2 linked regions of the Homo sapiens genome follow. The protein of the gene in region 1 binds, or shares a complex with, the protein of each later gene. Each region holds a gene or a part of one and is shown on either strand. Other genes may lie near its edges. The genes, in order: GTF2H5 and POLR2B.

Evidence for each region.
Region 2: GTF2H5 (region 1) and POLR2B share a complex: the UniProt entries of both Homo sapiens proteins name them as parts of the TBP-based Pol II pre-initiation complex.

Annotation. Positions count from the first base shown.
Region 1 is NC_000006.12:158,190,402-158,202,694, forward strand, and holds the end of GTF2H5 (general transcription factor IIH subunit 5), read left to right. Parts: intron 1-1,575; coding exon 1,576-1,756; 3' UTR 1,757-8,943; downstream 8,944-12,293. UniProt on the Homo sapiens protein: Component of the general transcription and DNA repair factor IIH (TFIIH) core complex, which is involved in general and transcription-coupled nucleotide excision repair (NER) of damaged DNA and, when complexed to CAK, in RNA transcription by RNA polymerase II.
Region 2 is NC_000004.12:57,014,059-57,026,351, reverse strand, and holds part of POLR2B (DNA-directed RNA polymerase II subunit RPB2), read right to left. Parts: intron 10,851-12,293; coding exon 10,696-10,850; intron 9,310-10,695; coding exon 9,111-9,309; intron 8,793-9,110; coding exon 8,624-8,792; intron 5,454-8,623; coding exon 5,357-5,453; intron 4,201-5,356; coding exon 4,106-4,200; intron 3,023-4,105; coding exon 2,772-3,022; intron 2,691-2,771; coding exon 2,601-2,690; intron 2,348-2,600; coding exon 2,240-2,347; intron 1,467-2,239; coding exon 1,353-1,466; intron 976-1,352; coding exon 815-975; intron 1-814. UniProt on the Homo sapiens protein: Catalytic core component of RNA polymerase II (Pol II), a DNA-dependent RNA polymerase which synthesizes mRNA precursors and many functional non-coding RNAs using the four ribonucleoside triphosphates as substrates.

The sequences.
Region 1 (12,293 bases):
CCACTATTACCACCTACATCAAAATCATCATCTCTTGCCTGGATGTCACCTCATGGGTCCCCTGCTTCCATCCTTGCCTCTGCCACTCCCAGTCTTTTCTCAACCCAGCAGCCAATATGATCCTTACAGTTAAAATTTAAGTCAGTTTGTAAGTTAAATCATGTCACTTGGTAAAACCCAAAGTCCCCCAAATCAGTTCTGAGGCTCATACTCATCTAGGGATAGAAGTAAATCCCGTGTTAGCATCAGTTAATACCTGTGCTTGTACTTAAATCTTATTTTTCTTGTTTTCAGTAAATTATAGTGACATCTTTTGGATTAAATTGTTACCTTTACAATTGATATTGACATTTCTCAAGACACCAAAAGATTATATGAGATTTTTTTCTCAAGAATTGCAAAAATCTGTGGTGCAGCTTGACATTTTTATATTCATTTTTTGCTAAACACATTGTGTATTAGATCTAAAGAGTGTCCTTTGTCATGATTCAAGGTTTTTATGAAAGAGACATTTTGCTGTAAATCTGTACTGCCCGAGAAGAAATTGTATCCCTCTTTTCCCTTATGACTATCCTATTCTTTCCAAACCAAAAACCACAAGTTAATAAAATTGAATTTGGACCTCTTTCCTTGAATGCCTATTACAAGCCAAGCACTGTCCTTGACATTATCTCCTTTAATTTCCGTAAACAATTCTGTTATGTAGCCTCACTTTTGAGGTTGGGAACAGAGGCTCTGGGAGATTAAGTACCTATTCTATTCAAGGTCACACAAGTAAGTGATGAAGCTGGGGTTGAATCCAGGTATGACTCTTGATATACACCCTGCCTGACCAAAGTGACTGTTTAACTGGTTTTGTAAGTTAATTTGTCACTGGTAAAACATTGAACACCTACTGGTTCCTTAGATGTAATGGGCATAGACAAGGAAGAAATTCAGTGTTTAAATCAGTTAAGAAAGCTGTGATTCTAGGCCCTACTAACTACAAAGCTTTCAATATTCTTTTATTTTTTCCACTTAGTGACAAATTATTCTTTAAAAATCTTGCCATTGGCCTCTGCCTCTTCAACTTACACTAATAGTTCTTTTTTTTTTTTTTGAGACAGAGTCTCGCTCTGTCGCCCAGGCTGGAGTGCAGTGGCACGATCTCCGCTCACTGCAAGCTCTGCCTCCCAGGTTCACACCATTCTCCTGCCTCAGCCTCCCAAGTAGCTGGGACTACAGGCACCCGCCACCACACCCGGCTAATTTTTTGTATTTTTAGTAGAGACGGGGTTTCACCGTGTTAGCCAGGATGGTCTCGATCTCCTGACCTGGTGATCCACCCACCTCGGCCTCCCAAAGTGCTGGGATCACAGGTGTGAGCCATCGCACCCGGCCAACTTACACTAATAGTTCTAAAATGAAGCCATGTCTATAAATTGTTAACACTTGAGGCAGAGAGGAAGTGAGGGATTGAGTAACAGAACTTTAAAAATCATTCTAAAAATTCTACATGTTCACATTTAATTGCTCAAGTCTCTGTGATGTGATTTGACAACAAGCTGTCTTACAATCATGTGTTTGTCTTTACAGTGATCCTGCCATGAAGCAGTTTCTGCTGTACTTGGATGAGTCCAATGCCCTGGGGAAGAAGTTCATCATTCAAGACATTGATGACACTCACGTCTTTGTAATAGCAGAATTGGTTAATGTCCTCCAGGAGCGAGTGGGTGAATTAATGGACCAAAATGCTTTTTCCCTTACCCAGAAATGAAAATACTCAATATGGACCATTTAGGAATTATAAGCAGCAACTGTGAAAGACTTGCCACTCAATATCTTAGGTGACTGATTAGACATAGAGGGTTGTTTTAGGAGCATGCCACGGGAAAGACTGAGGGATCATGATCATTTGTTCAGAAAAAAAGCCCCTGAACTGATTTTGTTACCATAGAATTTAAAAAAAAAAAAAGCTTTAACAGTTGGCTGTAATTTGGCTTTTATTATCCTTTATTAAAATACAAATGTCAATGCTTTTCCTGCCTTTTTAATACCATGTCAGTGTAACATAGGTATTTATTTTGCTCATCCCTGTGATCTGTGCATTTTTGCTGCGTGGATGTGATTGTTTGGTTTCAGTTAGAAACGTCATAGATTTGCTGTTTGAATATGCCAAGGTGGGGACTTAGACATTATGTACGTCTCACAAATCCTACCTGCATACCAGTCAGCTCTATTGAGGAAGACAATGTAAAACTAATGTAAACTACAGTTTGCATTTCCCTGAAAACAGAATATTGTTTTTAAGAGGGTTAGAAACAACCAGTGGGAAAGGCACATGCTGCTTTGTTTAGTTTTTCCTTGTTCAAACTTTGTTGGTCACATTTTCCCATCTGTATTCTTTTTTATTAAGAAAACAGCTTAGGGAGGCTGAGGTGGGAGGATTGCTTGAGCCCAGGAGTCCGAGGTTGCTACAAAAACACCATTGCACTCTGGCCTGGACAACAGAGAGACCCTGCCTCAAAAAAAAAAAAAAAAAAAAAAAAAATTCTACTTGTACCTTATTCCCTATGAGAATACTTATCAAACTTATCTAAAAAAGAAAAATAGGAACAGCCATATGCAAAGTCAGCCCAACAGGAAAGGACATATTAGATTAAAATACATTGCGGCCTGGGCTTAGTGGCTCACACCTGTAATCCCAGCACTTTGGGAGGCTGAGGCAGGCAGATCGCTTGAGTCCAGGAGTCGAAACCCTGTCTCTACAAAAAAAAAAATACAAAAATCTGCCTGTTGTCCCAGCCACTGGGGAGGCTGAGGTAGGAGGTCAAGGCTGCAGTGAACCTTGATCATTGCTACTGCCACTCCAGCCTAGGTGACAGAGTGAGACCCTGTCTCCAAAAAAAAAAGTGTATATGTATGTGTGTATATATAGCAAGAGAGAGTTCTGTGATCAATTGAAGGCAAAAACAGTAACACTGAGAGGGGCTTTGCTTCCCTTCCTGAAGATCATGTCATTGGGGTGGGTTCCTGTAAAGGGAATTTTCCAAGAGAAAAGAGAATTTTCATGACCTGTAGACTCTTACAAATCCATTTTACCTGCTTCCTTATGGTATGTTTATTCAAAGCACCTGTGTACCATATTTATTCACTTACACAGCATTACTGAATCTGGAAATTTTCAGTTAGGTATATTTTACATAATTCCCACCCATATAACTCAGTCCATACAGTTCACAGTTTTCATTCCCTCATAGCAATGCAAAAAATTTTGATGAGTTACTACTACTAAAACTAGTTAAGTAAAAGATGATTCTTAAGAATTTCCAGGCTGGGCACGGTGGCTCACGCCTGTAATCCCAGCACTTTGGGAGGCTGAGGCAGGCAGCTCACGAGGTCAGGAGATCGAGACCATCCTGCTCGGTGAAACCCCATCTCTATTAAAAATACAAAAAATTAGCCGGGCCTGGTGGCGGGTGCCTGTAGTCCCATCTACTCAGGAGGCTGAGGCAGGAGAATGGCGTGAACCCGGGAGGCGGAGCTTGCAGTAAGCTGAGATTGTGCCACTGCACTCCAGCCTGGGCGACAGAGGGAGACTCCATCTCAAAAAAAAAAAAAAAAAAAAATGAATTTCCAGCTATACCAAAATGTTACTAATGTATCTTATATTTCAGGCATGTCTAAATCAACTTTTAGTATGCCTCAGGCATTTGTCACCAACCTTTTATATTAACATGAAACTTAGAAAATTTTTGATAGAATCCCAGAGTTCAAAAGGTATTAGGATTTTTGCCACTGAAGTAAAAAAGAGAAAAAAAGATATTTATGAGAAAACTATTGAACAGTGACTGTGTTGTACCCGAGCAAGTTAGAGGAACGCCACACTTTGAGACGAATTTAAAAGTCCTTTATTTAGCTGGCAGCCAAGAGGTGGCTCACACTTGGAATTCTCTCAGCTCCGAGGAAGGGGCTTGATTTTCCTTTATACTTTGGTTTAGGAAGGGGACGGGAGCTCAGTTGCAACAATTCTACAGAAGTAAAAACATGCAAAAAATTAAAAAGACAAATGGTTACAGAGAAACAAACAGTTCCAGGTGCAGGGGCTCTAAATCTATCATAAGATGTCAGGTGTGGGGGCTCTGCCAGACACAAACTCAAGGCTTTATGGTGTATCTCTTGAGCGAAATCCTGGGAACTTCGTACATTGCTTGCTTCAGTACCTTATGAGTTAATTGGACTCTTTGATATGTTGAGAGTCAGCTTACACAAGTTAACTCCTTGAGGAAAGGGGGTGGGTAAGGAGTCCTTGATGTCCTGTAAATGAAGGAACCAAATGGAGTTCCTCCGGCTTTCTCAGCTAAGGGAGAGCTTATTCACATGGAAACAAGGCTAGGTGATTAAGGGAGAAAGGGACAGTCTGAAAACAAGGTTAGTAAAAACAAGGTTAGGTATTAGAACTGCAAAGAGTATTAAGTGAAATAAGTGAAGGAAAATATGAGCTCTTATTTTTAAAAAGTTGTGTTGGGGCAAATGTTAAATATCTTTCTTTCTCTGGACATTATTAAGAAAGATAGAGTGATGTGAATGATAGGAAGCCCACCTGTAACCACTTAGCTGACATGTCCAACTATGGGTGAACAGGAAATAAGCGACATTCACCTAGGCTGTTTATTGGAATCTGACTAGCATTATTTGATTTGGCATACTTTACATGTCCAGAACAAGGCTGTTGGTGCTTGGCACCAAGAAATTTATGACTTTTTTTTTTTTTTTAAATAAAGTCCTAAAGGTAGCATTAAAATGACTTAACTGGAGGCAGGAGGATCACTGAAGCCCAGGAGTTTGAAGCTGCAGTAAGCTAAGAAGGTGCCACTGCACTGCAGCCTGGATGACAGAGTGAAACTTTGTCTCTTAATAGAACTATGGACTGAAGTTGTGATATTGAGTGTTATATTTCTCAATAAAGGTTTTTTCTTTTAATACTGTATTAGGTCAAATTCAAGGTCTTAATTCCTTGAATTCCAATTTCCTTGTGAAATTTCATGTGATTAATTTAAAATTCCAGGGATCCTATCTAACATCACAGTTGATGGATATAACAATGTATTTTGAGAAATCAGTTTTGGTGAACAGTAACAGCATTACTGATAATAGGCAACAAACACTACTGCATTTTATTTCTGATAGGCATTATAGGTGGTAATCCAAATGATTAATGATTTTATTGCTCTTTACATTTTCTAGAACAGGTGATTTGACATAATTGTACTTTTTTCTGAGAAGTTGGTAGTGTACTTACTACTCTATTTTGCAGTTATACAATAAATCTTACTTAGCTGACAACTAGGAGTAAAAGCTCTGACAAAAAGCCTCTGCTGTAACTAAAATACTGAGATCATTCTATCTTAACAAACTTAACAGATGGGGAAGGGGTATATTTTAAAGATGGAGAAATGATGCAGTTTGCAAATATAGTCAATAAATATTCTCAAGTGTACGTAGCTCAATTTCATTTGCAGCAAAGATAACACTGAAATGTCTATGGATGAGATTATTGGATAAACTTTTTTAAAAACACTGTTCTCAAGATAGGCAAGTGATTAAGAGCACTGACTGGGCCGGGCGCGGTGGCTCACGTCTATAATCCTAGCACTTTGGGAGGCCGAGGCGGGCAAATCACAAGGTCAGGAGATCAAAACAATCCTGGCTAACAAGGTGAAACCCCGTCTCTACTAAAAATACAAAAAAATTAGCTGGGCATGGTGGTGGACGCCTGTAGTCCCAGCTACTCGGGAGGCTGAGGCAGGAGAATGGTGTAATCCCGGGAGGTGGAGGTTGCAGTGAGCCGAGATCGTGCCACTGCACTCCAGCCGGGGTGACAGAGCGAGACTCCCACCCATCTCAAAAAAAATAAAAATGAAAAGCACTGATTGAATCTAGATTCCTTGAGTCCAAGTGTCAGATCTCTGCTTACTAGCTCTGGGATCTCAGATGTTTCGTTGATTGGATTTCTTTGTGCTCATTTGTGTAAACAGGAATGCCCGTCTTTAAAGACTATTAAAATGAATGTGAGTTAACACACAAGAGGTCTTCAAAAAGTTGATGGAAAATGCATATTATGAAAAAAATTATGCATAGATTTCAAAAATCTTTGCAGCAAAATAAACTCATCATTATAACATGTCTGAACAGGATCTAGTTTGAGGCACTAAGAAGGATATCAGTTTAAATAGAGCCCCTGTCAGAACAATATGAATTCTGCTAAAACTGAAGCAAGAACAAACATCAAATTTATGGCAAAGCTTAGGTGGAAGAATGGTGCAATCATTGATGCTTTGCAAAAAGTTTATGGGAACAACGCCCCAAGGAAATCAGTTTACAAATGGATAATTCATTTTAAGAAAGGACAAGACAATGTTGAAGATGAAACCTACAGCAGCAGACCATGCCACTTCGTGAGGAAAAAATTATCTCATTCATGCCCTACTTGAAGAGGACCAATGATTAACAGCAGAAACGATAGCCAACACAATATGCTCCTCAGTTGGTTCAGCTTTTATAAATCTGACTGAAAAATTAAAGTTGAGCACACTTTCCACTCAATGGATACCAAAACCATCCAGCCCAGGTCAGCTGCAGACAAAAGCAGAGCTTTCGATGGAAATGTCAAACAAGTGAGATCAAGATCCTGAAGCATTTCTTCAAAGAATTGTAGCAAAAACAGACTTTTAAAACCTTGAATTCAGAGACAGGTATAAAGACTGCTTGGTGATTTTGAAAGGACTGAGATCATTTTGGGAGAGATCATCTTCAGAAAATGACCAGATACAACAAGAATTTAACATGGCAGCCAAACCAACCCACTAACACACATTTAAATAAGATACCCAAATGCAGAAAGAAAAGCACAGTCGTCATGCAAAATAGTCACTACTCATTCAAAAACTCTATAGTTGTCTGAGTCGTTATGCTCAAAATATCCAATAATATTTCTTTTGCTGAGCTGTAAAATAATTATTTTGCAAACATAAAAGAAAAAAAAAAGAATTGTAACAGAAACATGGCTTTACCAGTATGACCCTCAAGACAAAATACAAAACAATGGCTACCAAGAGGTGGAAGTGGCCCAGTCACAGCAAGAGCAGATTGATCAAGAGCAAAGGTCATGGTAACAGTTTTTTGGATCCTCAAGTCATTTTGCTTGTTGACTTTTTGGAGGGCCAAATAAAGATATCATCTGCTTATTATGAGAGTGTTTCGAGAGAAATCCAAAGCTTAGCAGAGAAACGCCTGGGAAAGCTTCACCAGAGGGTCTTCCACCGTGACAGTTCCCCTGCGCATTCCTCTCATAAAGCAAGGGCAGTTTAGCTAGAATTTCTATCAAAAATCATTAGGTATCCATCTCCCAGTCCTGATTTGGCTCCTTCTGACTTCTTTTTGTTTCCCAATCTTAAAAAAATCCCTGAAGGGCACCTGTTTTTCTTCAGCTAATAAAAAAGACATGGTTAATTTCCCAGGACCCTCAGTTCTTTAGGGATAGACTGAATGGCTGGTATCATTGCTTGAACTTAATGGAGCTTATGTTGAGAAATAAAAGAAATTATATTTTATTTTTATCTTTTAATTCTATTTTTCCATGAACTTTTTGAAGTCCCCTCAGATATAAAGCAGAACGTTATGAAACTGAGTTACCTTGAATCTAGAAGAGTACAATGATAAAGGGGAAGATAGAAACACACACATATGCGTTGTTTTCCCCACTTTCACAATGCCGTGCAGAAACTAACAGATGAAGGAGGAGAATCCCTAAAAACAGAGCATTGGGTAGCTAGTCCACCAGCGGTCTGATGCTTTCATTGATCTCAAAACTGTCTCTGAGTAACTCTACCAGGAAAGTTGTCTGGAGGGTTAACATTTCTGAAACCATTTTTATCTTTGCCTTCATTCTTGAATGATAATTAGTCTCGAATGTTTGGATCACAATCCATTGAAAGACTAGGCTATTTTTTCACTGTCCTCAGACATTTACTGAGTCCAGTTTGGACTTTATTTTATTTTATTTTTTTTGAAACAAGATCTCGCTCTGTTGCTCAGGCTGAAGTGCAATAGCGCAAACTCGGCTCACTGCAACCTCCCAGGTTCAAGCAATTCTCGTGCCTCAGCCATCCCTATAGGCATGCGCCACCACACTTTGCTAATCTTGTATTTTTGGTAGAGACGGGGTTTGCACCATGTTGGCCAGGCTGGTCTCGAACTCCCAACCTCAAGTAATCTGGCCTCCCAAAGTGGTGGGATTACAGGCGTGAGCCAGCGCGCCCGGCCTGGACTTAACTTCTGAAGAACTCTTTCTGTTTAGATTGCAGGAGCGTTCTCTCGGCTCATCTCTTGTTTTCTCACCCAGCTGTTCTTCTTCTAGTTGGCCATCATTCTTCATCCCTCCCTCCCTTTCCTGCAGTTAATTATTTCTTTGAAATTTTAAAACTTCTTAATGTTGCCTGGAATACATGAGTCTTCCTGATCTCTTCAAACGGGGTTTGTTTTGTTTTGCTTTGGGGAGAATTCTTTTGACGTTTTTGAATAAGCTGTTAACAACTTTAATACCTGTCTTGTTTGTTTTCTTCAGAAATTTGTTAATTCTCCATGATTAGCACCTTTATGTGGTTATCTCATTATTTTCATTCCTTTTTAATTCTCTGTTTTAGGAATGCTTGTCAAATTCGTCACTAAAATTGATTTACTTTCTTGAAAACCTGTTTCTGCTGCTCCCAACATGATTTAATCTTGGCTACTGAGCTTTTGGTTACGTTGCACTCCCTTTAAAATTACTCCGTTTAAGTACAGTGTTCACTCTTTGGGTAATGTGTACAATAGAAGCCCAATCCCCACCTATACCCAATATATCCATGGGACAAGCATGTACATGCACCCCCTGAGTCTAAAATAAAAATTTTAAAAAAACTATATCTGTCACAGCCTGTTTTTATTTTTAATTGAAGTTCTCTTTTTATGAGCGATACACATTCATTGCAGGCAGATTGAAAAAGGGAAACAAAAGAAAATACAACTCAACCATAATCCCACCACTCAGGAGTAGCCACAATTAAAATGTTAATAACAGGCTGGGTATGATGGTTCACACCTGTAATCCTAGCACTTTGGGAGGCCAAGGCAGGAGGATCCCTTGAGCTTAGGAGTTCCAGAACAGCTTGGGTAACATAGACCTTGTCTCCACTAAAAAAATCAAAAAAATTAGGCCAGGCGTGGTCTCACACCTGTAATCCCAGAACTTTGGGAGCCCAAGGCGGGTGGATACTTGAGGCCAGAAGTTCGAAACCCACCTGGCCAACATTGCGAAACCCCATCTCTACTAAAAATACGAAAGTTAGCCAGATGTGGTGGTGTGCACACACAGCTACTGGGGAAGCTGAGGCATGAGAATCGCTTGAACCCAAGAGGCAGAGGTTGCAGTGGGCTAAGATGGCACCACTGCACTCCACCCTGGATGACAGAGCATGACTCTGCCTCAAAAAAAAAAAAAAAAAAAAAAGACCGGCATGATGATGCATGCCTGTAGTCCCAGCTACTGGGGCTGGGGGAGGTGCTGAGGCAGGAAGATCGCTTGAGCACGAGGTCAAGGCTGTAGTGAGCCGTGATTGCACCACTGCACTTCAGCCTGGGCAACAAAGTGAGACCCTGTGTCAAAAAACATTTTTTTTTTAGACGGAGTCTTGCTGTCTCCCAGGCTGGAGTGCAGTGGCACGATCTTGGCTCACTGCAAGCTCCGCCTCCCGGGTTCACGCCATTCTCCTGCCTCAGCCTCCCAAGTAGCTGGGACTACAGGCACCCACCACCACACCCGGCTAGTTTTTTGTATTTTTAGTAGAGACGGGGTTTCACCGTGTTAGCCAGGATGGTCTCGATCTCCTTACCTCATGATCCACCCGCCTTGGCCTCCCAAAGTGCTGGGATTACAGGCGTGAGGCACCACGCCCAGCCTCAAAAAAAATTTTAAAAGCTAATGACAATCTTCACTTTTTTAAAGAATATAAAAAGAGTTTTGGCTGGGCGTGGTGGCTCACGCCTGTAATCCCAGCACTTTGGGAGGCCAAGGCAGGCAGATCACGAGGTCAGGAGATCGAGACCATCTTGGCTGACACGGCGAAACCCCGTCTCTACTAAAAATACAAAAAACTAGCCGGGCGTGGTGGCGGGCACCTGTAGTCTCAGCTACTTGGGAGGCTGAGATAGGAGAATGGCATGAACCCGGGAGGCAGAGCTTGCAGTATGCAGAGATCACGCCACTGCACTCCAACCCGGGCAACAGAGCAAGACTGTCTCAAAAAAAAAAAAAAAAAAAAAGAGTTCTACTCCCTATCCCAATGAGATCACACTGCTTTGACACTTGCCTTTTCCCTTAATTTTTCATGCTCCTTTATGAAAAACCTGAAGCAGGATTTCTATTTCAGAGGAAAGTTTTTTTTTCTGATTTTAGATGGGGAGCTTTCTAAAAATGTTGATGCCTGGCCTCAGCCCCCAGTCATTCAAATTTAGTTGTTCTGGGATATGACCCAAGCGTCAGCATCTTTAAAAGGCCTGCCTGGTGCTTCTGCTGTGCATTCAGAGCTGAGAACTCCTGGGCCGGTGTGTGCACAATGGAGACTCTGGGTAGGAGGTTTTGTTTTTGGGTTTCGTTCGGTTTCCAGTAGGCTAATCTACCAGCACAGCTGTTTCCTTTTACTGCCAAGGAAATGCTGAGTCTGCCCAGCAAGGAACCAGCTTTTGTTAAAATTCACTAATTAGATAACTGATTCCCCAAGTCGTTGCAGGATCTTATTTATTGACAGTAGCTAGCTTGAGTTGGATCCTTTGGTTAGACGGAGGAAAGTCATTGCAGCACTCATAATTGGTTAAGTTTTTTTTTTTTAAACATAAATTCACTAAGATATTTTAGTCTTGTGTTTATTTACTGTTTACCATGCTTTTGTGTGTGTGTGTGTGTGTGTGTGTGTGTGTGTGTGTGTGTGTGTGAAACAAACTCTTAAGCTATGTCAGCATATCCTTTCTCAGGCAGAGTCTTTCGGAGGTAGATGTCTAATTCAGTATTAACTGGTTTACCTAGCTCTCATCACTCCTCCGGCTCCCTCAAGCCCTCAGTAACATCTGCACTTACATAAGGTATTTGGATGTGTGACTTATATTTTATTAAATTAAGGACAGAAGTTGAGTTTGACACACAAAAACAGGGAGAGCAGAGGCAGGTCCGTGAGAGATAAACAAACACAACTAATTTAGTGACATGAAGAATTCACAGAAATCTTGGAAGGTTTTGAACTTCTGTGGACATGGAATGGAAGGGTTAGTCTTATGTCAGTTTTATCAAACACATTAAATCTGCCGGGCGCGGTGGCTCATGCCTATAATCCCAGCACTTCGGGGGGCCAAGGCGGGTGGATCACGAGGTCAGGGGTTCGAGACCAGCCTGACCAACATGGTGAAACCCCGTCTCTACTAAAAATACAAAAAAATTAGCTGGGCGTGGTAGCGGGCACCTGTAATCCCAGCTACTCAGGAGGCTGAGGCAGGAGAATTGCTTGAACCCGGGAGGCGGAGGTTGCAGTGAGCCGAGATCGTGCCACTGCACTCCAGCCTGGGCAACAGAGAAAAAAACAAACAAAAAAAAACACATTAAATCAGGTGCTATTTGCAGCTGTAATTTGTAACTATTGCACTTTGGATATGGTAGTAGAAGCTACCATGTCTAAAAGTAAATGTTCTATGAGTGTTTAAACCTCTAACTATGACTATACTGGGCAATTGGTCCAAAAGCCACTCTGAAAATTTTCCAGCATAAAGTTGTTATGGTCTTGACTGAGGCAGATATGCCTTTGAGGGCTTCTTAGTCTATATCAGTGCTTTTCAACTTTAAAGTACTTACAAATCATCTGGAAGTCCTTAGAATGCAGATTCCGATTAAGTGGGTGTGGGCTGGGGCCTGAGATTCTGCATTTCTAGAAGGCTTCCAGGGGATGGCAGTGCTGCTGTCTGGCAGGTCACATTTTGAGTAGCTAAGCTCAAACACCCAAAGTGATGGTGTCATAGAGAAATAGAAGTTAAAGAAAAATGTTTAGGCCGGACGCAGTGGCTCAACCCTGTAATCCCAGCATTTTGGGAGGCCAAGGCAGGGGATCACCCGAGCTCAGGAGCTCAAGACCAGCCTGGGCAACATGGCGAAACCCCATCTCTACTAAAAATACAAAAAATTAGCCAGGCGTTGTGGTGCATGCTTGTAATCCCAGTTACTCAGGAGGCTG
Region 2 (12,293 bases), on another chromosome or scaffold:
GTAATTCCAACACTTTGGAAGGCTGAGGCTAGAGGATTGTGGCCATGAGTTCAAGTCCAGCCTGGGCAACATAGTGAGACCCCCGTCTCTACAAAATTTTTTGTTTTTTGTTTTGAGATGAAGTCTCACTCTGTCACCCAGGCTGGAGCACAGGGGTGTGATCTCGGCTCACTGCAACCTCCGCCTCCCAGGTTCAAGTGATTCTCATGCCTCAGCCTCCCGAGTAGCTGGGATTACAGGTGTGTGCCACCATGCCCGACTAATTTTTTGTATTTTTAGTAGAGACGGTGTTTTGCCATGTTGACCAGGCTGGTCTTGGACTCCTGACCTCAGGTGATCTACCCGTCTTGGCCTCCCAAAGTGCTGGGATTGCAGACATGAGCCATTGCGCCTAGCCTCTACAAAAAAAAAATTTTTTTTTTAAAGGTGTAGTGGCACATGCCTGTAGTTAAAAAAAAGGTTGGAGGACAACCAATAAATTCAAAAAAGGACTTAAGAGACAATATTAATTTAGCTACTTGGGAGGCTAAGGTAGGATTGCTTGTGCCCAGTTCAAGGCTGCAGGGAGCTGTGGGCATGCCACTGCACTCCAGCCTGGGTGACAGAGTGAGACTCTGCCTTTAAAACATGATGATAATATCAAAGGTTAGAAGGACAGAGATGAATGCAACAAGACTGGCCATCAGTCGATAATTGTTGAAATGGGGGTAACAGGCACACAGGCATTCACTATACCACTATCTCCATTTTGGTGTGTTGACATTTTTCATAATATAAGGTTAATTAATAATAATGATGATGATACAGTTCTTACCGAGATCTACCCTCCATGGGCTGTCTATTGAGGATCTGAATAGGTCCCCTAGCACGAGAGTGAATCTTATCATCCACCATATGCTTCAAACGCTGGTAATAAGTGGGGCCAATAAATATTTGTGATGTGATTTTTCGACCAGTGAACCCATTGTACAGGACCTGCAACAAACACAGATTTTGAAGTGTAGACCTAAAAATTAAACAACGTCAAAGAAGATATGTGTATATATTGTGTTACTCCATTTATATAAAAATTAAAGCACAGAACTAATCTATAATGTTAGCAATTAAGAGAGTAATTAGCTTGGGGTGGGAGTGGAAAGGTAGCGACTAAAAAAGGTTCAGTCGCTACCTTCACATTTTTAGATCTTGGTGTTAGTCATGCAGCTGTGTTTACTTTGTGAAAATTCATCAAGCTGTACATTTCTATATGTGCACATATGATACTTCAATAAAAGGTTACATTGTTTCAGAATAAAACTACACACATACAAAAAAAAACAAGTGGCAAATTACTACTATAAGAGCAAATATACCTCATTTCCTCTGAGATGATAGCCATAATCAGATAAAAGATTAGAAATCTTCTGCACGTTAACAGCATCATTAAATGGAGTGGCATCACCAATTTCACCCTTGTTAGCCGATACCTTTTAAAAAAAAAAGTACTCTTTAAAATGTTGCTTCAGTCTGTCTCCCCCTAAAAGTCATATCAATAAAAATGCATTCAAAAAATTTTTAAATACTTTTAAAATTTGAAAGTATTATTTTAAGTATTTTAAAATTCAAAGATTTTGAACTCAAAATCTATGTTATGGAAAGCTGTGATATATAAGGTTCATTTTATAACCTTACACAAAACATTTAGAACAAATAAACTTGCTTAAAAAAGAAAAACTCAATTATAAGTATTCAAATAGAAGTCGATCCATGGGATCAGGTACAAAAAGAGTGAGACTCCTAAGTACTTCAGATGGCTCAAAGGAAAATGACATTTTAATGCCCTAAAACCAAGCCATCCATATGTTAGACTATTACCACTTTACCTTAAAAGAATACTTAAAAATAGAAAACCTCCACCAAAAGATGTATGCAGAGCTGATAATAGAACTATAAAATTATTAAGTTCACATTGAACTCTCCATCAACAAATTAACTGTTCATCTACAGAAAAGAACTAGTCAAAAGGAAAATCACATATGTATTAGTTGAATGTAGTATATCTCACAAAAATTCTGACTTGTCCATAACTTTGCAAATTGCCAAAAAAAATGGCAGAATCATAAGCAATTTGAAAGCAGAAAAGTAAGTCTCACACTAGCTTTTTACAAAGTACCCTGGCTCAAATGTGAGAGCAATCACCTATCAGAGTTTTAGAAGAAGCATCAGCTTAGAATCTATATTTTTGAAGAACATCTCTTACCTTCCCTTGAAGGCATTCAATTAAGTGACCAATAGTCATACGAGAGGGGATGGCATGGGGATTGATGATGATATCAGGGGTGATACCTTCACAGGTGAAAGGCATATCCTACAAAGAAAAATTTTAAAAGGGACTCAAAGATACATATACTAAACTAGAACTGACATTTCAGTTCTCCCAACTGAATTACTGTATGTCCCAAATTCTGTTTAAACATGGTATGTTCATATACTTATTCAACAATAAAATCAAAAAGTTCAACCTGTATCATCTTTGAGCTCTTAAGTTAAAGCAAATTTTGATTAAAAAAAAAATATTTAACAAAACTGGTTTGGGCATGAGGGAGATCAAAGATACCTACCTCTTGTCTATACTGAATACCACAAGTACCCTTTTGACCATGTCGACTAGCAAATTTGTCTCCAATCTGTGGAATCCTAACAGAGCGTACCTAAATTCATATAAAAATAAGTTAGTTAAGTGGATTTGGTTTACTTTCTAAAACTAGCTACATGAACAAAGTTGTACTCACCCTTATTTTACAAAATTTATATCCTTCCTGATTGAGAGTTACCATAACCTGATCCACAATGCCCGTCTCGCTAGTTCTGAGAAAAGTGCTACAGTCTCTCTTGGTATAGCGTCTATTGGTGCTCTCCAATTCATCTTCATTTTCAGGCAAGGTGACTGTTTTGCCTATAATAACATCATCTCCTGATACACGAACCCCTGGAGCTATCAAACCATCATCATCCAGCTTGTCGTAAATGGCATGCCTCATGCCTGTGAGGAAATAGACACGGAATGTCACATAATCCCCAACAAAGATTAAAAACCACATACATGAATCAGTTCCAAGTCAGAGAGAAGGCCACAGGAGTCTCTATACCATGAATCACACCCTTATTCCAAATATTACAAACTATTCTGAACTCTAATACTACAGCCCACACAGAAAACAAAAAAAAAAGTCTATGAAGGAAAAGAACATTGGAATCAGCACTGGGAAAGCAGATTCTTCCATGACAGACATTTATCGAGTGACTTTGGATATGTTTTTTGTCATCTTCTGATTTCTATATTACAAGAGAAAGAATATCTCTGCCATCAGTGGGTACAGGAGAAAAATTTTTTTAAATTAAAAAGAGAGTATCTATGGATGCCCTCTGTACACATCCTCCCACAGAAATTGTGGATTTCATCTTAACTCAATCTTAACTCCACTGGACATCAATTCACTACTACACAGAGCCACCCAATGGAAGGGGAGTAACAGGAAGATGGCAAAGGAAACAAAATACATTTTACTTCATGCAATGCTATTCAGAGTCAACACTGTAGCAGAGATATTGCATTTCCCTGGAACATCCCATCCATCCCACTGCATAAGCAGGTTTTAAGTGTCTGTCAAAATAAATAACTAGAAAGTAAGTTTGAGTTTTCTAGAAGAAACAACAAATGCTAGGTATCCTCTTCTCACTGGTTATTTTTTAAATGTTTACAAACAATGTGGCTGAACAAATATTATGATCACACCATAATTTAGAAAGGAAGGGGGACAGGTGTGAAGTGTGTCCCCAGAAATTGCATGACCTCTCTGATTTCCTAAACTCCCTCCTCAATGCAGGACCTACCAGGAAGGAAGGTCTATAGCAAGCTCACTCCTAGGTGCAAAGACTTTTATCAAATACACATGTTTTCTTAGATGTGAACTCTAAGAATAACATGAAAACACACTTTCATTGCACAAAAAAAGGGAGAGGAGGACAGGGGCAGGCACAGGGTGACACAACCCATCAAAATCACTTAGGAAAACCACAGTAAGTTAACTTTGGATTCCATCATTTAAATGTTAGTGTCACTTACCCTGGCATGTTTCACGTGTAGGCTTCTCAAAAACTTCTTCTTGATCAAATCCTTTTTTAGACTCCTGTTCTTTGTATGAGCGATAGAAAACAGACCTAAAAACACATGGTTCTAAAGGTAAAGTCTATTTTCTTTTAACAAAAGGGCTGAGACTATACCAACAATTTCTCATTTACTTGAAATTTGGGAGACAATTTAAACTACGAATCTGGGACAAGAGTAACTGCATTAAGGATCTGAGTTAAACTCTAAATGTTATCACATGAGTTATACATATGTAGCATCTGACCCATAACCTTAACCACCTAGTATTATATGTCAAAATGGAAGAGACCCAGGGGTCAATGAATCCAACCTCCGACACATTTAAGAATCCATTACATAATAACCCTGAAAGATGGTCACCTAGGTTCTACTCAAACACTTCCAGTGAGAAGTTTTAACATTGGCTGAGCATGGTGGCTCACGCCTGTAATCCTAGCACTTTGGGAAGCCGAGATGGGTGGATCAGCTGAAGTCAGGAGTTTGAGACAGCCTGGCCAACATGGTGAAACCCCGTCTCTACTAAAAATACCAAACAACAACAAAAAAAAACTCTGGCATGGTGGTGCGTGCCTGTAATCCCAGGTACTTGGGAAGCTGAGGTAGGAGAATCTCTTGAAACCTGGGAGGCAGAGATTGCAAGTGAGCCAAGATTGCACCACTGCATTCCAGTCTTGGCAACAGAAAGACTCTGTCTCAAAAAAAAAAAAAAAAAAAAAGTTTTTACATTAAGCCATAGTATCTGTCCTCTGAGTTCTAGTGCTACCCTTTGAAACTACACAGACAAAGGAAAATCCATCCCCTCTACTAAATTCCCAGTTTTTAAAACAATCTTTATATGCCTTGAATTTGAGGTCTGTTTGTCGACAATCAAACTGAAACATAATGGAAAAAAAGAGCGAAAAGAAAACACACTATAATTTTAACAATAGTTATCTATGGATTCTAAGTTATTTTTATTTCTTCTTTGGACATTTCTATATTATCTAAATGCAACTGTATATTTCCTTACCAAAAGAAAGGCTCAAAATACTAGCATTTGAAAATCCTGAGAGATACAAGTAGTATCTTCAGCTGTTTGTGACCATCAACCAGTCCTTCCACTTTCTGGAGTGCGGCGTAGTTAAACTGTATTTTAAGAACTTTTTTTGCATAAAAAATTAGTGTTTCCACTGTATCTGTGTTTTGACAAATTTACAAAATACTAACCTGAAGAAGCCGCGGTCTACAGCTGAACGATTCATGATAACAGAGTCTTCCTGATTATATCCAGTGTATGATGCAATGGCCACAATTGAGTTGATGCCTGCAGTGAATTTAAGAGCATACATTAAAACATCACCTGGAAAACAGAAAAACTGCCCTTTCTTTAAATCAACTTTAATTACATCATATTTGCCATAAATGCTTGGGTGTTTGTTATCATGGTAACTGCCAAAGTCTATTCCTCCTGGAATAGCAATCTGTGAGGCAACTACTCTGATGGCTAAATATCTCCCACAAGCAAATCCTAGGACTAGTCACTCCCAATGTATCCATTCTTATAGTAAGTGATTACACATGAGTCACCTCCTACTTAGGAAGTGCCTCCCCAAACCAAGTTTCCTGATCCTCACAGCAACTCTGTGCCATAAACAAGATAAGCATTATTATTCTCATGAATCAGAGGAGTGAATTAATAATCTACCCATGATCCCAAAATTAATAAGCAATAGACTCAAGCCCCAGCTTTTAGGTTTGAAACTGATACTACCCCATTCCCCTCTCCTTCTGCCACCAAGAAAATATCATATCTTTCCCACCACAATGAAATTCTTAGTTGCTGCTGCCAAAACACTTTGTTTGATGAGCCCATAAAATAACTTGATATTTAGGTCGGGCATGGTGGCTCACGCCTGTAATCCCAGCACTTTGGGAGGCCGAGGCAGGTGGATCACAAGGTCAAGCGATTGAGACCATCCTGGCCAACATGGTGAAACCCCACCTCTAATAAAAATACAAAAACTAGCTGGGCGTGGTGGCACGCGCCTGCAGTCCCAGCTACTCAGGAGGCTGAGACAGAAGAATCGCTTAAACCCAGGAGGCAGAGGTTGCAGCGAACCAAGATCGTGCCACTGCACTCCAGCCTGGTGGCAGAGCGAGAATCCGTCTCAAAAAAATAAAATAAAATAACTTGATATTCATAACCTGGATATCATCATGAGGAAACAATAGTCAAACCTAAATTGAGACACAATGCAAAAATAACTTTCCTGAACTCTTCACAAATGTCAAGGTCATGAAAGACAAGGAAAGACTGAGAAACTGTTCTAGATTAAGGAAACTAAAGAACCATGCAATTAAATGCAATGCACAATCCTGGATTAGCTCCTAGACCCATTAAAGACATCGTTAGGTTTGAATACAATAACAGTTGCTTTCTCAAAAAAAAAAAAAAAAAAAAAAGACATCATTAGGACAACTGGCAAAATTTGAATTGAGGACTGCTGACTATATGGATATCAATGTTACCCTGATTTTGATGGCTACACTGCAGAGAATGTCCTTGTTCTTAGGAAACACATACTGAAGAATTAAAGAATGATATGGCTTCATGCCTGCAACTTACTCTCATGTGGTTCAGGAGGAGAAATAAAAAGGGAGAGAATAATAGAGCAAATGTGGTAAAATGTTAAAAGTTTTTTTAAAAATGGTACGATGGGCTGGCCGTAGTGGCTTACATCTGTAATCCCGGCACTTTGGGAGGCTGAGGTGGGAAAATCACTTGAGCCCAGAAGTTTGAGACCAGCCTGGGCAACAAAGTAGACCCTATCTCTACAAAAAAAAAAAGAATTTCAAAATAAAGATGCCATGATGAAGTCAGGAATAACAGAACTGCAGTCCCTGCCAGCCATGACTCTCCACTTCACACCAGTACCAAAGGAACATTTGCTTTCAAACCTAGTCCTTCTGTATATTTATTTTCCTCTCTAGCCATAAAGAAACTGTATTATCTAAATGTTGGAGAAAACACAGCACTGCAAGCACAGCCCAAAGATACATGCATACTGTGTAGACAACCTAACAGATTTTGCTTTTCTAGACAAGAGGAACCCCTTGTGGAGGATTTTGAAAATAAGTAATTTTAACCTATGAGAATTTGCTATCAAAATGGTAGAGCCCCATTACAATACACTAAAGATAAACTTTACTAACAAATAACAAATGTTACCCACATTCAAAGCCAAAAGTCTGTTAATACAAAAGATAACAGTGCCAAAGAACTCTACTGTCTCCTTTAATAGTCAACACTCATACCCTTCAGATTTCTCTTCACCATTTTACCCACCATCCAGTCTCCCTGAGAATCTCCTACAAACCTGGAATTCCCCTCCTTATCAGCTACTTCTCAAATCTTCTCTCTTAATTTCTCTTCCTGGTGTCTAAAATTGTCTGCCTCTGGCCTTTTTCTCATTCTAAATTCTCCTTAGGCAATTTCATAGTAATCTATAATTATCATTAATAAATTAAAAATTTTACATCTCTAGACTTGACCGTCTTTCAAATCATGTTTGCAACTCACTGTTGGAAGTTCACGTCTTAGTGTTCTGACACTAAGACACTAAATCAACATATCCAAAACAAAATTATTGTCTTACCTCTAAAACCTCTTTCCCCTTCTAACATGTTCCCAATCTTATTTTTCCCCCAACCTATTCAAAGCACCTCTCTTTAATCACCCAAGCCACAAACACCAACAGTATTTCCAATTCCTCTCTTCATTGCTCCACACTCAACCAGTCATCAAGTCCTATCAAGTGTATTTCAAAAGGTATCTTACCCATCATTCTTTTTCATTTCTTTAGGACCTTGCCATTTCACATTTATACTACTGCAAAAACCCCTAAATTAGCTCCCTGTTAATACAGTACCTGATTGTAATCTACTCTTTATGCCGCTGTCAGAATGGTATTCCTAAAACAAATTTCTAATTGTATTACTTCCCTGATCCAAAAGGTTGGATGGGTCTCCATTTTCAAAATAAAATTCAACCTGTTCAAGCTCTCTCCACACTGAGACCAAGCTTTCACTTCCATATATTTACACTCCACTCCCACTAAGCTGACATGACTAACTGTACCGTACATTTTGCATGTCTTCGTCCATCTGGGCCCTTGCTTAAACCACCTCTCAAATGCAAATACCCCTTCATCAATTTTGCTCCAATCTAAAATGCCACCTTCTCCATGAAACTGGATCTAGACTTCCAACAGGAATTAATTGCTTCCATCAGTCTGTGCTTCCAAAGGACTTTGTACCTCCACCAAAACACTTTCCACATACCTACCTTTTTATTATGTTCATGTTTCCCACCATATTATAAATTCCGTGAGAACAGGCACTATGTCATATTTATTTTTTAATCCTCCCAAGCACCCAGAAAAGTGCCTTAAGCACAGAAGGATCTTAAATAACGTAGAGCAAAACTGACCATACCTGCTGGCAGCTCTCTAAATCGTAGATATTCCATAGACCGTGTAGTCACAAGTGGCTTTTGAGGATAATAGAGAACATGGGCCAATGTGTCCATGCGAACATGGAAGTTGGTGATGTAAACTCCCATAGCCTGCTTACCCATAGCAGACTGGTATGTGTTTCTAGGGGACTAAACGTAAAAATGAAAAGCAGAAACAACAAAAAGTTACTATCACTAATGGAAAAGACTCTGACAATAAATCAAAAGAAATATGATTGGTAAAACTCCTGATTTTTTTCAAAAACAGTAAGTAATAACCATTTGGAATAATCAATTACGGCTCTTAACCATGAAACACAACAGCAATTATATCAAATACTGATTCCGTAGGAGTTAATAGCCTTTTCATTAAAAGGCTTTTTCCCTCCAGATAAGACTACAGAGTTACTTTCAATTTTTATTACTTCTCCCAATTCCTCACACCAGAAGACAAAAAGTGATACCAACCTGGTTATGATCAGGAAAGGGAATAATAGATGCACAGACACCAAGGATCATTGAGGGATGAATCTCACAGTGTGTATATGTGGAACAATAAGCTACTTCTTTCTCCTGTAAATCATCTGGAGTCATTGCAAGCATCACTGTTTCTTCTTCCAGGGTATCAATATACTCCACTACCCCACTGGCCACAAGATCCTGCCAACTAAAAAAGAATTCACTCAATTTTCTACTTCCTCAAGTATTTTAACTAACTATTCCTCCTACTTAAAAGTATTCCTATATTTATATTTAAATAAGTTTAATATTATATATTAAATATACATATATATTTATATATATATATAGTTTAATATTATATATAACTGACCAACATAGTTACATGATTGTTGACAAGTGAAATAGGTAAGCTGCTGGAGAATAAGCACTGGAAGAATACACACCTAACTGTTACCAGTATATACTTGTGAAGAAGAGAGTATACATTGGAGGGCAATTTTTTAAATTTATCATACATATTGTTTGAATGATTTTTATATTAGTATACATAACTATACATTCATATTGCTAAAAAATAAATATTTAAAGCAGCTTCATCTTTTTACTAAATTTCTTATTATATTATTCATATTATTGTCATATTATATGTAATAATTTAGATTATATAGGTTATTTCGCATTATTACTATTAATAGATTTTAATATATCACAAAAACTTTTTTTTTTTGAGACAGGGTCTTGCTCTGTTGCCCAGGCTGGTACAATCAAAACTCACTACTCCTGGGCTCAAGTGATCCTCCTGCCTCCTGAGTAGCTGGACTGCAGGTGCATTCCACCACACTTGACTAATTTTTTTATTTTTTGGAGAGATGGGAGTCTCAATATGTTGCCCAGACTGGTCTTGAACTCCTGGCCTCAAGCAATCCTCCCACCTTGACCTCCCAAAGTGCTGAGATTACAGGCATGAGCCACTACACCTGGGCAATCAAAAGACTTTTAAGCTTAAATAAAATCCTATTAATTATCTTGCTTCATAATAGAAGTTAAGAAAAACAAATGTGACTCCTAAGGATACAGAGTTTTTTCGGGGCAATGAAAGTATTCTAAAATTAAGATAGTGGTGATGGTTGCACAACATTGCAAACACACTAAAAACCACTAATTGTATACTTTTTAAAAATCGTTAACTTGCCGGACGCAGTGGCTCATGCCTGTAATCCCAGCACTCTGGGAGGCTGAAGCAGGCGGATCACCTGAGACCAGGAGTTCAAGACCAGCCTGGCCAACATGGCGAAACCCTGTCTCTACCAAAAATACAAAAATTAGCTGGGTGTGGTGGCACACACCTGTAATCCCAGCTACTACGGTGGTTGAGGCAGGAGAATTGCTTGAACCCAGGAGGTGGAGGTTAGTGAGCCAAGATCGCATCACTGCACTCCAGCATGGGCGACACAGCTGAGGCTGTGTCAAAAAAATAAATAAATAAATAAAATTAAATAAAAATATAAAAAATAAAAAAAGGTTAATTTTACAGTATGTAAATTCTATCTCAATTTTTAATACACACATTTTTCTCACTGCATGTTTTTACCTATAGTTGTTATATTCTCTCTCTTTCAATTGGTCAATATGCCTCTTCTTCAAAAGTAGCTTTTGTTTTTCCACAATCAGAAGTGGTCTACAAATACGGCCTGCATCCGTATAGATCCGAATCTCCCTCTCTCGAATATCTCTGATCATAGAAACCTACATATAAAAAGAAAAAACAGTTCCACAAATTTTTATTTTCTCTTTATTATTAGGCTTAGTTAAAAATACAATACAAATCCTACTAAATTTCTGGAGCAACCAATTTATCAAGTAAAATGTGCAAATCTTAGTTTACCATTGTTTAACATATTAAAAACTTAGGTATAATTTAAAATTTTATGAATGAAAAATCTAACCTTGGCAATTATAAACCTGTACAATACTATCTGGTAATAATGTCATGCAAGTTAACGTAGGAAATATTTTTTCAATACCACAAACACTAGTATGTGACAATTTCTTATTTTGGTTCTTTGCTGATGACATATATCTCACCCTGTAACCTTTCAAAAACCAGCCCTATATCACTTTGCTTTGACCATACTTTCCCAGTCATTAGCCTGACTTCTCACACCCACCTATCAGACGTAAGCCTGACTGCTCACACCCACCCTCAGACAAATGGCTTATAGTCTAGCTATCTAATACAGGGGATAGCCACATGTGACTGAGCACTTGAAACGTGGCGATTCTGAACTGAGATGTGTTGTAAGTATAAACTACATAATGCATTTGAAAGACAGCACCAAACCAGAAAAAAAAGAACGTAAAATAGTTTACTAATAATTTTTATATTAATAGAATGTTGATGTAATACTTTGGGATGTATCAAGTCAAATAAAATATGCTATTAAAGACCAGGCACGGTGGCTCAAGCCTGTAATCCCGCACTCTGGGAGGCCGAGGTGGATGGATCACGAGGTCAGGAGATCGAGACCATCCTAGCTAACACGGTGAAACCCCATCTCTACTAAAAATACAAAAAAAATTAGCCAGGTGTGGTGGCAGGTGCCTGTAGTCCCGGCTACTCAGGAGGCTAAGGCAGGAGAATGGCATGAACCCGGGAGGCAGAGCTTGCAGTGAGCCTAGATCACGCCACTGCACTCCAGCCTGGGCAACAGAGCAAGACTCCGTCTCAAAAAAAAAAAAAAAAGAAAAAAAAAGACCAGGCACGGTGGCTCATGCCAGTAATCCCAACACTTTGTGAGGCAAAGGTGGGCAGATCACCTTGAGGTCAGGAGTTTGAGACCAGCCTGGCAAACATGGTGAAACCCTGTCTCTACTAAAAATACAAAAATTATCTGGGCGTGGTGGTGTGCGCCTGTAATCCCAGCCCCTCAGGAGGCTGAGGTAAAGAATCACTTGAACCCGGGAGGCAGAGGTTGCAGTGAGCCAAGATCATGCCACTGCACTCCAGCCTGGGCAATAGAGTAAGACCCTGTCTCAAAAAACAAAACAACAAAACATCAAGTTTTTCTCTAAAATGAGTCAAAAGACAAGAAAGAGAAAAATGTTCCAAGTTCCTAGTCTACTGCCTGTCCTTAGAAAGTAATTTAAGGAGGAACACTGTGAGCAAAAATATCATGAGTAGTATTCTAA